3 linked regions of the Homo sapiens genome follow. The protein of the gene in region 1 interacts with the protein of each later gene in a biochemical or structural test. Each region holds a gene or a part of one and is shown in the gene's direction. Other genes may lie near its edges. The genes, in order: MEF2C, IFRD1 and MYLK2.

What was found.
Region 2: the proteins of MEF2C (region 1) and IFRD1 form a complex in vitro, tested with the Homo sapiens proteins (one study listed by BioGRID).
Region 3: of the proteins of MEF2C (region 1) and MYLK2, one has a biochemical effect on the other in vitro, tested with the Homo sapiens proteins (one study listed by IntAct).

What each region holds. Positions count from the first base shown.
Region 1 is NC_000005.10:88,719,079-88,726,201, reverse strand, and holds part of MEF2C (myocyte-specific enhancer factor 2C), read left to right. Parts: intron 1-3,276; coding exon 3,277-3,598; 3' UTR 3,599-7,123. UniProt on the Homo sapiens protein: Transcription activator which binds specifically to the MEF2 element present in the regulatory regions of many muscle-specific genes. Controls cardiac morphogenesis and myogenesis, and is also involved in vascular development.
Region 2 is NC_000007.14:112,474,404-112,477,770, forward strand, and holds the end of IFRD1 (interferon-related developmental regulator 1), read left to right. Parts: intron 1-738; exon of another isoform or gene 739-832; intron 833-1,026; coding exon 1,027-1,116; 3' UTR 1,117-2,800; downstream 2,801-3,367. UniProt on the Homo sapiens protein: Could play a role in regulating gene activity in the proliferative and/or differentiative pathways induced by NGF. May be an autocrine factor that attenuates or amplifies the initial ligand-induced signal.
Region 3 is NC_000020.11:31,814,354-31,822,355, forward strand, and holds the start of MYLK2 (myosin light chain kinase 2, skeletal/cardiac muscle), read left to right. Parts: upstream 1-5,002; 5' UTR 5,003-5,075; intron 5,076-5,179; 5' UTR 5,180-5,227; coding exon 5,228-5,279; intron 5,280-5,772; coding exon 5,773-6,193; intron 6,194-7,085; coding exon 7,086-7,384; intron 7,385-8,002. UniProt on the Homo sapiens protein: Implicated in the level of global muscle contraction and cardiac function. Phosphorylates a specific serine in the N-terminus of a myosin light chain.

The sequences.
Region 1 (7,123 bases):
CCAGCAGCCCAAGATGGTTACCACAATTCTTTCTCAAAATTGCAAAACCATAAACAGAGTTCTTCATATTTTGTCCATGGAAAAAAAGTTCATTTTGTCCTTTGGAGCTTTAAGTCTTCAAAGCTATACTTTTAAAACCTAGTATCTGATTTTATCTAACCAAGCTAAGTAAGCAACACAAATTTATTTGCTATAGGGAGAGAGATGGCTGACAGAGGAACTTGCCATCAAGAGTTAATGAAAGTCCTTTGAATACTAATATTTGATTTAGTGTAACACTAAGTTTTAGTGTTTTTCTAAACCACCACCTATAAAAAGGGCAGCCTGTTTTCTGGAAGCATTTCCATACGTCAACTTTGTTGATGTGGGTGTTCAGTACATACTGAGAGAGATAACTCTGAGTAGAGATGACTTATAAAAGGTTAGGTTAAATATAGTTTGATAGTCTAATTTCCAGGCGGAGGCAGTAAAAATTTTGAATAAAACTATCCAGTCATGTTTGATTTCTGAACAATTATGGGAAAGGGTAGGAGTTTTCCCAATTCAAAAGCATCTGTAATAGATGAAAATTTGCATAGAGGACTTGATATGGGTAACTTGCATATCTGGCTTCTATCTCCCCACCCACCTCTTTATCACCCACCCACACATATGCAGTATTTCACAATTATCAGGGTCTATAATTATTCGTGTCTATATTTTGTTCTCAAGTAGACCAACATGCTTATATCTGAACCTAGCATATATGCAGTTAAGTTATTTTAATGCTACTTTTTTCTTTTCAAGAAAATACTTCTTTGTTAACAGAGACTAGCCATTCTATTTTATATCCTATGTCACAGTATAATGAAGCTGAATCTAAGATATCACTTGCATTTTACTACTGTGGATTTAGTCCCCAGAACTACTCAAAATGCTTCATGTATGTTTTCAGTGTCAAATGAAATTCCACCAAAAGATAAATTTAAGCTAGTCTGTTTGTAGGAAGGGATAACCAATAATTGTTACATCTTTCATGGGGAAGATACACAGCTAAACCTATACAGGCCAGTTAACATAGGAAGATGATGCAAAGAGGTGAATAATGCAGCTTCCAAAAACTGTATTAAAGAAACAGAATTTTGGTTATATTATTTTTCCCTTACCTTGTCTAGATTAACTGCTTAGACTGTCCAACTCACCAATTTTTTCTTCTAATTTTCTATGTCACCCTCCCTGTGAAGACATAATCTGTATGTCAAAGAGCAAGCAAAAGTATTTATTGACATATCACTTTTTATTTTCAGACTCCTAATTCATATTCATTATTAAATAGTTGTGTGATTCATAGCAGAAGCATTTAATTAAATTTTAGTGAAATGGTCTTTCTTAGAGCCAGGAAAATTCTTTATTCCAGAAATCAAAAGACGATTTCCTCAAACATCAGAATGAATCACTAAGTAACTTTGAACCAAGATAAAATAGTCTACCATTATGAATCCTTTTGAAATACAGGTGTTCCCTCTCCCCATTTTAACAAGGCTTATTTAATTAAAACTTTTGGAAAATTAGTAAACTGATAGACTATAAATTAATAAGCTACAAATAAATAGCTCCAAATATAAACAGGTGTTTGAAAATTATATACAGTCAGTGTAGTTTCTTGATATAAATGCTAACACTGCTTTGATTATATAAGATCATAAAAGCTAGAGAAAGAGACGCTTATTAAGGAAACAAATAATTCTCCTTTATATTATTCTCTACATTAGCTCATCTATTTATTAATAGGAGAAGGAAAGTAATTCTTTGCCAGTAGGTGGTGCTTTTGTACAAAACATCACTCAAAGATAAACTCGTTTCTGACTAATTTTATATCACTATACATCTTGAGTTTGTATTGCATCTCCCAAAAAGCCAGCCCCAAGTTACTTCACTTTTTTTCTGAAATATATACTTTTTCTCTCAGTGGTCATAATGACATTGTTAGTGCCAACTAATTCTCTCCACTGGAAAGCAGCATAATTACATACATTAGTAAGTAGGCTTGCTTTCCTTTGTTTAAAATGGGTGTGTCTGTATGGATAATTCTTCACTTGGATTCTTCCTCAGTAAAAGAGAGTACCATGCTCTTTTGACAATATAGTCAAGTAATCCTGACTCTAGCTCTGGAAGTCAGTGTAATTAGTGTAAGAAGAGTAAAAGCATCTTAAAATTGATGCGAGCAATGCCACTATGGTTTATCCTGATCAAAGTCATTGTGATTGCTAATCTACACTTAAGGGCTTAATACTTTTTTCCTCTAGAATTCCAAGTTTCTAAATTTTCCCAGATTTTGGAAAAAGGAAAAATTATTCTCTCTGGGAATATATGAGGATTAAGGATTATAAACACAGTAAAATCACACTACATCCTTCTTGGCAACAAGCTTTCCTTAGGCAACACCAGATTCATCAACTAATGCCAATGATAAATAAGAGGAGTGGTAGCCTAAGAACCGCACGCATCAGGGAGTGACTAACATTAATAAAATTGAGGTCATTGTGGAACACAAAGTATTTTCATCTCATGTAACTGCAAAAGGATGAAGAAAGTCAAATTATCAGTTTTAATGGAGTAGAAAGTCTTAAGTGTTTGAAAACCAACGTTTAAACTTTCTGCAGATAATTTTCAATTTCCCTCCCCCTTTCCATTTTTTCCACCTCCAAAGCTTTTTACCAGATACAGTTATTGTGCAGCATTTGAGTTCTAGTCATTTAAAATTTAACTCCCTTCACTTTCTCTGAAGACTATGTGATTCCATCTGTATGTGCTTATTAATTGGAGGCAAATATTTATATTGATAATAAGCTTTTAAAAATAATATTCAAACACAAGCATTAGTAAATCAAGGAAGTCTAATTCCAGAGCTAAACACTGTATCTAAATGCTTAGAAATTTAATTTTTAGAACTAGTCTAGGGATAGAGTCCATGAACACAGAAAATGCTTTTTCCATTGTGTCTTAAACCTTTCTGAAATGGTAACCTATATGTTTAGGGAGCCTCTCGGAGACTAGAGATATAATTCATGAGGCCTGGACCAGTTAAATGCTGTAATTACTACCGGGCAAATCAACAAAGGCATCCTAAATCGCCCTGAGAAGGCGATGCCCTTATGTGCTTCCAAGCACGTTTTCTTCACTCTGGGCATGCTCTGGTGTCTATGCGAGTCTTTAAGCTGATGTTTGATTTAATTGTGAGTTCCTGGGGCCTCCAGGCCTCCTTCATCTGTAACTGGGTTTCCTTTCCTCCTACAGAGCTTGCACTAGCACTCATTTATCTCAGAGTTCAAATCTCTCCCTGCCTTCTACTCAAAGCCTCAACATCAAGTCAGAACCTGTTTCTCCTCCTAGAGACCGTACCACCACCCCTTCGAGATACCCACAACACACGCGCCACGAGGCGGGGAGATCTCCTGTTGACAGCTTGAGCAGCTGTAGCAGTTCGTACGACGGGAGCGACCGAGAGGATCACCGGAACGAATTCCACTCCCCCATTGGACTCACCAGACCTTCGCCGGACGAAAGGGAAAGTCCCTCAGTCAAGCGCATGCGACTTTCTGAAGGATGGGCAACATGATCAGATTATTACTTACTAGTTTTTTTTTTTTTCTTGCAGTGTGTGTGTGTGCTATACCTTAATGGGGAAGGGGGGTCGATATGCATTATATGTGCCGTGTGTGGAAAAAAAAAAAGTCAGGTACTCTGTTTTGTAAAAGTACTTTTAAATTGCCTCAGTGATACAGTATAAAGATAAACAGAAATGCTGAGATAAGCTTAGCACTTGAGTTGTACAACAGAACACTTGTACAAAATAGATTTTAAGGCTAACTTCTTTTCACTGTTGTGCTCCTTTGCAAAATGTATGTTACAATAGATAGTGTCATGTTGCAGGTTCAACGTTATTTACATGTAAATAGACAAAAGGAAACATTTGCCAAAAGCGGCAGATCTTTACTGAAAGAGAGAGCAGCTGTTATGCAACATATAGAAAAATGTATAGATGCTTGGACAGACCCGGTAATGGGTGGCCATTGGTAAATGTTAGGAACACACCAGGTCACCTGACATCCCAAGAATGCTCACAAACCTGCAGGCATATCATTGGCGTATGGCACTCATTAAAAAGGATCAGAGACCATTAAAAGAGGACCATACCTATTAAAAAAAAATGTGGAGTTGGAGGGCTAACATATTTAATTAAATAAATAAATAAATCTGGGTCTGCATCTCTTATTAAATAAAAATATAAAAATATGTACATTACATTTTGCTTATTTTCATATAAAAGGTAAGACAGAGTTTGCAAAGCATTTGTGGCTTTTTGTAGTTTACTTAAGCCAAAATGTGTTTTTTTCCCCTTGATAGCTTCGCTAATATTTTAAACAGTCCTGTAAAAAACCAAAAAGGACTTTTTGTATAGAAAGCACTACCCTAAGCCATGAAGAACTCCATGCTTTGCTAACCAAGATAACTGTTTTCTCTTTGTAGAAGTTTTGTTTTTGAAATGTGTATTTCTAATTATATAAAATATTAAGAATCTTTTAAAAAAATCTGTGAAATTAACATGCTTGTGTATAGCTTTCTAATATATATAATATTATGGTAATAGCAGAAGTTTTGTTATCTTAATAGCGGGAGGGGGGTATATTTGTGCAGTTGCACATTTGAGTAACTATTTTCTTTCTGTTTTCTTTTACTCTGCTTACATTTTATAAGTTTAAGGTCAGCTGTCAAAAGGATAACCTGTGGGGTTAGAACATATCACATTGCAACACCCTAAATTGTTTTTAATACATTAGCAATCTATTGGGTCAACTGACATCCATTGTATATACTAGTTTCTTTCATGCTATTTTTATTTTGTTTTTTGCATTTTTATCAAATGCAGGGCCCCTTTCTGATCTCACCATTTCACCATGCATCTTGGAATTCAGTAAGTGCATATCCTAACTTGCCCATATTCTAAATCATCTGGTTGGTTTTCAGCCTAGAATTTGATACGCTTTTTAGAAATATGCCCAGAATAGAAAAGCTATGTTGGGGCACATGTCCTGCAAATATGGCCCTAGAAACAAGTGATATGGAATTTACTTGGTGAATAAGTTATAAATTCCCACAGAAGAAAAATGTGAAAGACTGGGTGCTAGACAAGAAGGAAGCAGGTAAAGGGATAGTTGCTTTGTCATCCGTTTTTAATTATTTTAACTGACCCTTGACAATCTTGTCAGCAATATAGGACTGTTGAACAATCCCGGTGTGTCAGGACCCCCAAATGTCACTTCTGCATAAAGCATGTATGTCATCTATTTTTTCTTCAATAAAGAGATTTAATAGCCATTTCAAGAAATCCCATAAAGAACCTCTCTATGTCCCTTTTTTTAATTTAAAAAAAATGACTCTTGTCTAATATTCGTCTATAAGGGATTAATTTTCAGACCCTTTAATAAGTGAGTGCCATAAGAAAGTCAATATATATTGTTTAAAAGATATTTCAGTCTAGGAAAGATTTTCCTTCTCTTGGAATGTGAAGATCTGTCGATTCATCTCCAATCATATGCATTGACATACACAGCAAAGAAGATATAGGCAGTAATATCAACACTGCTATATCATGTGTAGGACATTTCTTATCCATTTTTTCTCTTTTACTTGCATAGTTGCTATGTGTTTCTCATTGTAAAAGGCTGCCGCTGGGTGGCAGAAGCCAAGAGACCTTATTAACTAGGCTATATTTTTCTTAACTTGATCTGAAATCCACAATTAGACCACAATGCACCTTTGGTTGTATCCATAAAGGATGCTAGCCTGCCTTGTACTAATGTTTTATATATTAAAAAAAAAAAATCTATCAACCATTTCATATATATCCCACTACTCAAGGTATCCATGGAACATGAAAGAATAACATTTATGCAGAGGAAAAACAAAAACATCCCTGAAAATATACACACTCATACACACACACGCACAGGGGAATAAAATAAGAAAATCATTTTCCTCACCATAGACTTGATCCCATCCTTACAACCCATCCTTCTAACTTGATGTGTATAAAATATGCAAACATTTCACAAATGTTCTTTGTCATTTCAAAATACTTTAGTATATCAATATCAGTAGATACCAGTGGGTGGGAAAGGGTCATTACATGAAAATATGAAGAAATAGCCATATTAGTTTTTTAACCTGCAATTTGCCTCAGCAACAAAGAAAAAGTGAATTTTTAATGCTGAAGATAAAGTAAGCTAAAGTACCAGCAGAAGCCTTGGCTATTTATAGCAGTTCTGACAATAGTTTTATAAGAACATGAAGAGAACAGAATCACTTGAAAATGGATGCCAGTCATCTCTTGTTCCCACTACTGAATTCTTATAAAGTGGTGGCAAGATAGGGAAGGGATAATCTGAGAATTTTTAAAAGATGATTTAATGAGAAGAAGCACAATTTTGATTTTGATGAGTCACTTTCTGTAAACAATCTTGGTCTATCTTTACCCTTATACCTTATCTGTAATTTACCATTTATTGTATTTGCAAAGCTAGTATGGTTTTTAATCACAGTAAATCCTTTGTATTCCAGACTTTAGGGCAGAGCCCTGAGGGAGTATTATTTTACATAACCCGTCCTAGAGTAACATTTTAGGCAACATTCTTCATTGCAAGTAAAAGATCCATAAGTGGCATTTTACACGGCTGCGAGTATTGTTATATCTAATCCTATTTTAAAAGATTTTTGGTAATATGAAGCTTGAATACTGGTAACAGTGATGCAATATACGCAAGCTGCACAACCTGTATATTGTATGCATTGCTGCGTGGAGGCTGTTTATTTCAACCTTTTTAAAAATTGTGTTTTTTAGTAAAATGGCTTATTTTTTCCCAAAGGTGGAATTTAGCATTTTGTAATGATGAATATAAAAATACCTGTCATCCCCAGATCATTTAAAAGTTAACTAAAGTGAGAATGAAAAAACAAAATTCCAAGACACTTTTTAAAAGAATGTCTGCCCTCACACACTTTTATGGATTTGTTTTTCTTACATACCCATCTTTTAACTTAGAGATAGCATTTTTTGCCCTCTTTATTTTGTTGTTTGTTTCTC
Region 2 (3,367 bases), on another chromosome or scaffold:
CTCACTAATAATTATTTTAATTATAGCCATTCTGGTGGGTGTGAAGTGTTTAATTACATTTTATAGAACCTGGATATTTTATCAGTTTTATATCCACATAATTGTTTCTTGTACGGCATTTTAAGTTTTTTTTAAGAAACATTAATATTTTTACATACTTCTCTCTTTTGAATAATTTTTTTGAAGAAATCCCCTGCATAATGTATTGCCAAATTACTTTCCAAAGTTACTCTTATATTGGAGACGATATTTAAATTGTCTCCAGCAATGAATGAAGGCATGTAGCTGTTACACAAAGATTTGACACCATTGAGTTTTATAATTTAAAAAATGTGTTTATTTAATTGATATTAAAATGGCACTTCATCACTTTTTTCCTTGTTCTAATTGACAGCCAAGTAGGACTATTTTCTGCATTAGTCATGATTTGTCTTTTCTTGGATGAAACAATGTTGATGTCCATTTTTCACTGTTGGTTTTTGAAATCGTCTAACTTTCTTGGCGTTTTACAATTTGATTAGTACTTTTCTTAATATGGAATAGCCATTAACTCTTTATTTATTTATTTTTTTTGAGACGGAGTCTCGTTCTGTTGCCCAGGCTGGAGTGCAGTGGCGTGATCTCGGCTCACTGCAACCTCTGCCTCTCGGGTTCAAACGATTCTCCTGCCTCAGCCTCCCGAGTAGCTGGGACTACAGGCATGTGCCACCATGCCTGGCTAATTTTTTGTATTTTTAGTAGAGACGGGATTTCACCGTGTTAGCCAGGATGGTCTCAATCTCCTGACCTCGTGATTCGCCCACCTCGGCCTCCCAGAGTGCTGGGATTACAGGTGTGAGCCACCTTGCATGGCCCCTGTTAACTCTTTGTTTTTCTCCTTCATTCTTTGTGTGTGTTTTATAAACATTTAAATGTTTATAGGGTCAAATTAGTTCATTTCTTTTCTTTGTGACTTTTACCCTTTTTCTGTTTTGTAAGAATATCTTAAGTCTTACTGATGCACGTTTTTCCTTTTTTTCATTTTAGCATTTATATAACTCTGCAGCCTTCAAAGCTCGAACCAAAGCTAGAAGCAAATGTCGAGATAAGAGAGCAGATGTTGGAGAATTCTTCTAGATTTTCAGAACTTGAAGACTATTTTCTAATTTCTATTTTTTTTTCTATTTCAATGTATTTAAACTCTAGACACAGTTTTTATCCTGGATTAACTTAGATAACTTTTGTAGCAGTGGTTATATTGCTTATAATTTAATGTACAATACTATTGAAACTGGTGAGTTCTGATTATTAAATATTCTCTGTAAATCAGTAAACATGTATAAAGTATTTGTAATGTTTGGTCATAATTTATTTATGAAGACAGCAAAAGACTGATTTCATGATGGGGAAAACAATTAGCCAAAGTTTAATTTCTTACACTGTGGTTGTCAAGAATACTGATTTACTATAATGATATATACATGCAAGATATTTAACTTAATATCTTAGACAAGAGTTCTGGGTACAATTTTGGGATCTAGTTCCCCTGGAAAAGCTGCTGTATTTTTAATTTTTAATGGAATGTAGCTTTTAAAATCCTGTCACTGGCATCAACAAAAGGAATTATACCATGAGACCTTATAGCTGTACTTAAAAGCCATTCAGTTCAGCTATTGGGAGTTCATGATGAATTAGCATATGCCAGAAAGGTTGCTAACCTTAACATCTGAGAGCAGTAACACTGATTTTATCTGCTGTATGAGACTTTGTGCATTTTACTTTGAAATAAAGATTTTTTTCCACACTGAAAGTGCTTCTCTTCTAATAGAAGAAATATTATTTATGGCTTTGAGGTACAGAGTCCAAAATGACTAGGCCAGGTGGGCAGGGAGACAAAGCTTTATGTGTATATTTACAAACATTAAAGTAGATGAAAAGAATGTAGCAATACATAATTGGGATTAAGGTTTCTGACTTTCAAGAATATTTCTGCTTGGCAACATGCAGTGTGGCTCATGCCTATAATCAGCACTCTGGGGAGGCTGAGGCGGGAGGATGGCATGAGCCCAGTTTGAGACCAGCCTGGGCAACATAGCGAGACCCTGTCTCTACCAGAAATTTAAAAAATGAGTGTGGTGGTGTGTGCTTCTACTCTTTATCTACTTGGGTGCTGAGGCAAGAGGGTAACTTGAGCCCAGGAGGTCAAAGCTGCAGTGAGCCGTGATTGTGCCACTCCAGCCTGGGTGACGAGTGAGACCTTGTCTCAAAAGCAAAACAAAAAAGAATATTGCTGCTTGTTTGCCCATGAGGTATATTTCTTTCATTTTATGAAAAGCATTTTGACAACACGTTAACATTTAATAAACTTTAGATTAAAATATATAGTGCAAGCAACATGCCATTTCAAATCCGTAGACTTGTTTCTTTGATACTCTTGCTGTAGGTCGCCGTGAGGGGTAGGGAAGCATATATACTGTAGGGAGAAGTATCAAAATCATTTAAGGTCTTTTTTCCAAACTAGTGTTCCCCTCCCACATCCCAACAACTCTTGGAAGTCTGGTGCTCCCTCTAGGTGAAAATCATTTGCTGGCTTATGGAGTCACTGTTGCTGAGTCCCATCCCCCAGTTACAGTGCAGTGGAAAACAGGTTTAGAATCTAGAACTTGTTTGTATGTTGTCACTTGGTTATGTTCCAAGTAGGTTAGAACCATGGAAAAGAGATTGCAAATGGTAGTTTCTTCTAGATATTCAAATGCATATATGTATGTACATGTAATTATAAATAAATAATGAATTTTTATTAAAGTGTTGTATGAACATAGGTTTTTGTTTGTTTTTGAGACAGTCTCCCTCTGTTGCGCAGGCTGGGGTGCAGTAGCGCAATCTTGGCTCACTGTAACCTCTGCCTTCAGGGTCCAAACGATTCTCCTGCCTCAGCCTCCTGAGTTGCTGGGATTACAGGTGTGTTCCACCACACCTGGCTAATTTATATTTTTAGTTGTGATGGGGTTTCACCATGTTGGCCAGGCTGGTCTTGAACTCCTGACCTCAAGTGATCTGCCCGCCTTGGTCTCCCAAAGTGTTGGGATTACAGGCATGAGCCACCGTGCCCAGCCTGAACATAGTTTAATGGTACTTCAAGGCTAATAAGGAAAGCCCCTTGCTCCATCCTTTCCTATTCCTCAGTCCCATCCCAAGAGACATTCAGCCTTCAGTTTTTTCTAGCTCGGTTCTTTCAGCCTTCAGTTTTTGGTTTTAGGTTTCTAAATAATATGATTATACAGCCATTTATTTTTTAGGTGTTTGTCAACTTACTATTAAGACAGGTGAAAATTTCTTTTATTGTTTCACATCCTTCTAATATTATTTTGGTTAGATCATGTACCTG
Region 3 (8,002 bases), on another chromosome or scaffold:
CACTTCGCCCAGCCAGGAGGCTTCATTTTAAACCAACTCTGGGGCTTAGTTACTGAGAAAGCCTTGCAGTAGCTGAATTGCGAGTTCTCTGAGGCCCTGAGCCAAGAAGTCCTTTCATGGTGTTTTATAGCTCTTACCATTTTCTCTCTGAAGAAATCTGTGTCCACGTTGATATATTTGGAATTACTTATTGATCTGATTAAGAGTTACAAGTCATTTCCAAAAAAGTTGGAAAATCTAGATGAATAAAGAATAAAAATAATCTCTATTTCTACGCCTGTAAATATGTCCATTTATATCCCTCCAGCCATCTTCTTTGTAAATATTTTGAACAAAAAGGATCCCGCTCTATGGCTGATTTTTATTTAATTTATTTATTGAGACAGGGGCCCACCCTGTCACCCAGGCCATAGTGCAGTGACACAATCATGGCTCACTGCAGCCTCAACCTCCTGGTGTCAAGCAATCCTTCTACCTCAGCCTCCTGAGTAGCTTGGGACCACAGGTGTGCACTGCCACGCCTGGCGAATTTTTAAATTTTTTTGCAGAGATGGGGTCTCACCATGTTGCGCAGGCTGGTCGTGAACTCCTGGGCTCAAGTGATCCTCCAGCCTCGGCCTCTTAACATGCTAGGATTACAGGCATGGTTGATTTTTATAGTCTTTTTTCACCTAAAATGTAATATGCAGTGATTCTATAGCTCTCCCCCAATTTCATCTCTGTGTCCTGAAAGTGACCAGTTTAGTCCTTGTCACAGTAGAGCCCCCAGTAATTAATCTTAGCAATAAAATTCTATAACTGTGGGATGGAACAGTGTGTCAATTGCGTTTTCGGAGAAACCTATGTCCAATTTGCACACAGAACGCCCACAGACCTCTGCTTACTAGCTTGGCTGGAAGGACAGGGTCTGCTGTAAGGACAGCAACCTTACCTAGGGCTTTTCCAGAGGCCTGAGAGGTCCTGCCAAGGCCCTGGGCTCAGGGGTCCAAGGTGGGAGAGGGCGAGAGAAAACAACGTGCTAATGCAGCCTTGAGTGGCTCTCAAACAGGAGCAGAGGGAAGGCTGTGAGGGGAGTTGGCTGCTCTCTTTGGAGTCAGAAAGGTTGTTGCTCAACTCTTTGGATTTTCCATCACAGCTGGGCAGGGAGAGGGTCAGACTGGGCATGACTTCTCCGAACAGGTCCTTTTAAAGCCTCTTGGCTGAACTGATTTCCTCTCCAGAGCCAAGGAAGCAGTGCCTGGGTGAAGTTAACCCCTTCACCCCCAACACATTCTTCCAGAGCTAGGTGAGCCTGGAAGCCTAGGCTCCTGGAAGGCAGAGCTACACAGGGCAAGAGGCCTAAGGAGCCGTGAACTCTGGCTGGAGAAACCTTCCCTCTGGCCTTGTTAAATCCAACAGGCATAATTGCATCCTGCTGACCTTAATTCCCCTGGCGGGTTTAATTGGTCTTGGCATTGCCCCACTTCCTGTCCTGCCCCTGTAGAGGCAAAGAGGGTGTCTGCACAGCTGGTGCAGGGCGGGGAAGCCCCTTCTTGAGGGTGGGCAGGGGCTCTGGCAGCCCCTAGGTGGGTGGAGGAAGTTTCCCCGTGCCCCACCCCTGTGCCTCCAAGGGAGTGCTGAGAAGCTTGGGGACTCCCAGGGAGCAGCTGGCTGGAGCAGGCAGTCCCGTAGATTCGGAACCAGGCCAGACTCTCATCCCAGTGGGAGGCACTGCAGGGGAGCTGGCGGGAACAGATGAACCCTCTACCTGGGGTGTCCACGACATTATCAGGCCCCCACAGTGCTGTAGGTACTGTGCCATTGGGCACTCTTTACATGTGTGCTGGCTAAATGCTCGCAGCCATGCTGTGAGAGGGAGGCAATGGGGCAGAGCAGTTATGAGCAGAGCCTTGGGTTAGATGGGTCCAATCCCAACTCTATGACTTTGCCCTGTGACTCAGTTTTCCTGTCACATCTGTGAAATGGGGATTAAAGAGCTGACATTTATACAGCACTCGCTATGCTCACACTCACTGTTGTAATGCTTTATCTACCTCCTGGGAGGCAGATGCTCTCCTTACGGATGAGGAAACAGGTGAAGACATTGTTCCAAGCTCACAGTTACTGGTCGCAGCGCTTCATTGACAGATCTCCTAATCACTGCATGGTAGGGAGTTGTAAGACTCGAAGGAAGGATACTCATGAAGCTGCTTACCCCAGGGCCTGGTCCATTTTAGAAAGAGTTCAATAAGAGTAATTATTTGGGAATAATAATTATAACAAAAGTAGCACTAATGCCCCTGAAGTTGTCCCAGGCTGGATTTTGGTCTCATTGGGAGGTGGCTCTGGATTTGAATGTGGGTAGTTTGAAGCCATTCACTAGCTGAGTGACTGTGGGGACAAGCCACTTCCCTCTGTGAGCATCAGTTTCCACACCTTTAAAATGGTGTAACATTGGCCCCTACAGTCCCTTCTGAGGATCCAGGGAGCTGGATCTTTGGCATAGTCTGGCCTGGCCGTTGGTGGGCACTCAATAAATGACTGGTATTGATAACCACAATAATAACAAGGAGATGCCAGCAAGGTCCAGCATAGGGAGGTAACAAACTCCAGTCTGGAGCCTTCTGGTTAATCAGTTATTTACTCATCAGACACTGATGGGCAAGTCCACTCTGTGCTGGGGATGTGTTTAGCCCCTGGCCTTCAGGGGGCTCCCAGACAGTGTCAACCAATGGTGGGATCAGCTGGGGCACTGTGGGGAGGCCAGAAGCAGGGGACCCAACATTCCAAATTAAACTAAAACATGCTCTGGGCCAGATAGAGGGCCAGGAGGTCCTAATGATCCGCATTAGGACAGGAAACATTTCAACCTTTTGAATGCTGCAAGATCCACAAAGGGGTTACTCAGCAGGGAGAAGGGGGCAAGGCACAGGCTGGGACATTTTAGGAAGGGAAGAGGGCTTTGGAGTTTGAAGAACGACATTCCAAGCTCAACTCCCTTCCTTGCTGAGTGACTTTGGGCAAGCTACTGATTCCTTTAACTCTCCTCGTCCTCATGCAGAAAATGAGATGAGCGCTCCCCACAGAGTTATCATCAAGATGATGCTTAAAGGCAAGATGGCTAAAACGAATGACAGGTGCTCAGCAAGTGGAAGCTCCCTTTCTGCAGGGGACCTGGGTTCAGAGCTCAGTTCAGCCCCTTCCAAGCTGTGACTTTGAGTAAATTACATAACCTCTCCATGCCTTGGTTTCCCCATCTCTCTAGTACCTACCGCACTGGGTTCTTCTGAAGACCATTTGGGTGGATCAACATGAGAGCATGCAGAGCGAGGCCAGGCACGTGGTCAGTACCGTATAGGCATCAGCTGTTACTTTTGCTTCCTGGAAGAGGCAGACTGTTAACTGGACCTTAAAGAAGAGAAATGGAGGAGAGGAGGACCGGGCCTGGAGAGGAGGGCCAGGCAGAGCAAAAGTAGTCAAGACTGGGGAAAGAGCTCCAACTATGGTTTTTACCAGCTTATACCAAAAACCCTTGACATTTGCTCACAAAACAAAACATCCCACTCATTTTGAATAGTAGCCTGTTCACATAGTTCATGGTTCAAACAGAAAAGTCAAAGTATATACAGTGATGTCTCCTTCCCACCCTTGGGGCCCAGTTCCTTGCTTATCCTACCAAATAAATTCTTATGTGCATAAAGTGAAATATATATTATTCATATATTATTCTCCCTTTTTTTTTTGCACAAATGGATAGCACACTCTACATGCTACTTTGCATCTTGCTTTTTTTATTCCCCCCACTTTGGTGGTCACTTTTTGTCAGTTCATTAACAGCTTCCTCAATCTTTTTTTACAGGTTCCTATTTCCCCACTGCTTAGAGGGGCTGCATTCTCCCTCCTTTCTCTCATCAAGCGTTTTTCCAATGGCTTCCCATTTGACAGAGGAGCCGAGGCCATGGAGTGAAGTGACTGGTTTGCTGCAGTCAGGACCTGAACCTGGATAACCACTCTACAGCTACTTCATTTTATCTTACTTTTTAAAATATAAAGACGGGGTCTTGTTATGTTGCCCAGGCCAGTCTCCAACTCCTGGCCTCGAGTGATCCTCCTGCCTCAGCTTCCCAAAGTGTTGGGATTACAGGTGTGAACCACTGCTTCTGGCCTCTACAGCTACTTCTAATGCACCCAGGTCTGGCCAGTTCTCAAGAGCCCCCTCTGAGAAAGGCTCTGGGTGATGGAAGGCTCCTTGGATCATAGCTGTCCTCATCCTATCTCGAACACCTCAGGCTAGAGTGCCCCTCGGGCCACCCCTGTAGTGGAGCATCCTTGAAAAGACTCTCTGCCAGCCCCCTTCTTCCATGTGGGTCATGGGTGAGAACTGGATGAGCTTGGGGGAGGGGCACAGAGCACTCTCCATCTCCCATGGCTACTCAGGGCAGCCTCCGTGTCCCCAGGAGCCCAAGAAAAGGACAGTTTCAAAAGAAAAAGCTTCCAGGCCTATGGACATGTTGAGAAAGTGCCCCCGAGACAATTTCTTACCCAAAGGTGACGCAAGCAGGTCCAGATGTCGAGGCACAGAGCTAGGCACTAGGGTCAGGGAGATTATCCCTGGGACTTTGTGGCTCTAGCCAGGTTCTGGGGAGCCCCAGGAGATGTGGCACACAGGTGGGCAGACCAGGGCTCAGCCTGGGCATACTCTTGCCCTTCAGGCCTGCCTGAGTACTCCCCTTCTTCCAGGCCCCCTCTGATCCTGTCCAAGTCAGGGATACTGAGCAAGGCCTGGGGAAAGGGCTGCTCCCCCAGCGTCCCAGATACCCCTCCCTTTTCTCGCTTGTTCCAACATCATTCTCCCCCCAGTCGGGCCATGGGAAGAATGCCGTGTCCTCTGAACTGGGGCCAAGAGTGACAGGTGGCGGCAGTCCCAGCTGCATGGCCCCTGGTGTAAGAGATCCTCTCCTCCGTCCCCGCCTCCACTGCCCACACCCCTGCCTCCGCCTCTGCCCACCCGGCCCAATCCCTTACAACTGCCCAGGACTGCTCCTGAGCAGCCGCTGGGAGACAGACGGCAACCAGGTTGCCCCTCTTTGCTCCAGGTACCTCTCTCCCCTCAGTTAGCAGGCCTCGGCTTCCTGTCTCACTGCAGCCAGACGAGAGGGGAAATTGGACAGCCTGACACACTCCACTCTTGTTTCTGCAGCTAGAAAGACTTGAGTTAGACAAGCAGCAGCACACGCCTCCCTACCTCATGGCGACAGAAAATGGAGCAGTTGAGCTGGGAATTCAGAACCCATCAACAGGTGCCAAGCTGGGGCAGGAGATGGAGGGAGGAGCTTGGGAAGGGGGGTTTTGAATCCAGGACTGGGCAGGTTCCTCAGTGGGAGTTCTGTGCCCCAGCCTTGTTTGCATGGTGCACGGGGGACCCAGAAATCAGAGGAATCTCTGGCTAGGGTTGGGCTGGGTCCAGGGCCTGTATGAAGCCCTTCCTGGAGAGACCAGGAAAATGTGAAGCCACCAGGGATGGCTGCTGGGGATGCACCTAAACAGTCAGGGCAAGGATGATGGGGGCCACCAAGGCCCACCCAAAGGGCTGGAAGCCTCCCACAGAGGCCCTCCAAGGTCGTGGCAGCTCATCTCTAGGGGCCATCAAGTGGCCCCAGAGACTCAGTGGGACAAGCATTTGCAAGTTGTTGCCTGGGTGGGAACCTGGGCCCAGAGCTGGTCTCTGCCCAGCCTGGGTGAGAGGGAAGGAAAGGAGGGTGGATCCTGATGGGTGTCTCACCTCCTCTGCAGACAAGGCACCTAAAGGTCCCACAGGTGAAAGACCCCTGGCTGCAGGGAAAGACCCTGGCCCCCCAGACCCAAAGAAAGCTCCGGATCCACCCACCCTGAAGAAAGATGCCAAAGCCCCTGCCTCAGAGAAAGGGGATGGTACCCTGGCCCAACCCTCAACTAGCAGCCAAGGCCCCAAAGGAGAGGGTGACAGGGGCGGGGGGCCCGCGGAGGGCAGTGCTGGGCCCCCGGCAGCCCTGCCCCAGCAGACTGCGACACCTGAGACCAGCGTCAAGAAGCCCAAGGCTGAGCAGGGAGCCTCAGGCAGCCAGGATCCTGGAAAGCCCAGGGTGGGCAAGAAGGCAGCAGAGGGCCAAGCAGCAGCCAGGAGGGGCTCACCTGCCTTTCTGCATAGCCCCAGCTGTCCTGCCATCATCTCCAGGTGAATATCCCCTCCTGGGAGTGGGGAGGGGTCCTGTGGTTCTGTCCCTAGGGGTCCTGCTTAATTCCCTTGTCTTAGGCATGGTTATCATCACATTCAGTGCTGGGGAGTGTAGTTCTGACATTCAGTTTCCTCTGTCCTGTGAATTGCCTCTACCGCCTTGTCCCCTGCAGAAACCAGAACCCTGCCACAATTCATACAAGACTGGAGTAAGAGAGACCCTCAAAGACTGCCTAGGTTGAACATATCTTCTCTAGGCTTCTGGGGTCCGAAGTTCCCCTTACTCCATGGGCTTGGGTCTAGCCAAGGGCAGGGTTGAGATGGCAGGCAGAAAGGCTAAAGGTGTCAGGCAAAAGGCTGTGTATTTCCTAGGACATCCAGTATTTTCCTGTTCTTCTTAATATAATTATTGGTAAGATATGAAAAGATGACTAATAACCAGATTGGAGGATCATTGATAATATTTTCATAACCATAATATAGCACATGTGTGATGCCATCAGTTATACTTACCTGAATGCTAATGAGGTCATTAATGATATATTGTAAGCCACAATAAGAACATTTACCATATCACTTTGATAATTATGTATCAATTATATCACAACAGATTTTATGAATCAAGAGCTACATAACTCCCTAGTTGTATCCACATGATGATTAACCATATCAACAATCCTATTAATAGTTATTAATGATGTATTAGTGTGTTGGTAGTCAAGATAATGACCACAGCCATGAACATCCCTTAATTTTGTACCAGGTGAATTTGGCTGTATTACACCATGCATTTGGGGTGGGGTTGGATTAGCTCTGCAGATTGCATTGAGACTTGCCTGATGCCACAGGCTGTGGCCGCTGAGGGCTTCACCTCTGTGTTCTCACCTTCTAGTTCTGAGAAGCTGCTGGCCAAGAAGCCCCCAAGCGAGGCATCAGAGCTCACCTTTGAAGGGGTGCCCATGACCCACAGCCCCACGGATCCCAGGCCAGCCAAGGCAGAAGAAGGAAAGAACATCCTGGCAGAGAGCCAGAAGGAAGTGGGAGAGAAAACCCCAGGCCAGGCTGGCCAGGCTAAGATGCAAGGGGACACCTCGAGGGGGATTGAGTTCCAGGCTGTTCCCTCAGAGAAATCCGAGGTGGGGCAGGCCCTCTGTCTCACAGCCAGGGAGGAGGACTGCTTCCAGATTTTGGGTAGGCCAGGGGCAGGTGGGGGCTGGGGCTGCCCTGGGGCCAGGGGGAGGGAAGGGGGCTGTCAGTCCCAAGTCTACCTATTCGGAGGTCTGAACTGCCCTGAGCCAAGCCTTACCCAGGCCCATTCATCTAAGGGTCACACAACTCCAGAAAGTATTCCTTTTTTAACGTATGTTTATTCATTTGTTTATTTGTTTTAAAAGATAGGGTCTTGCTACGTTGCCCAGGCTGGCTTCAAACTCCCAGCCTCAAGTGATCCTCCCACCTTGGCCTCCCGAGTAGCTGGGACTACAGGCGTGTACAACCATACCTGGCTTTCTTCAATCTTATTTTTTAAGATGTATTTTTATTTTTAAATTTAGTATTCCCTTTTGATAGATGGGGAAAGGAAGGCTCAGAAAAAGGAAAATGAAGTGCCCAAACATATCCAGTGAAGACAGGATTTGAACCTGTCAGGCCACCCAGACTCCAGAACCCACTTTTGAGTTTTTTCTACTTTGACTAAAATGAAGTTAAAAAAAAGAAAAATCAGGCAGATTATTGGAGCAACACAAACTCCCTGGGCAATGGAATTTGGAGTCAATCTGTAGAAGGGCTCAAATGCCAGGCTTAGTAGCT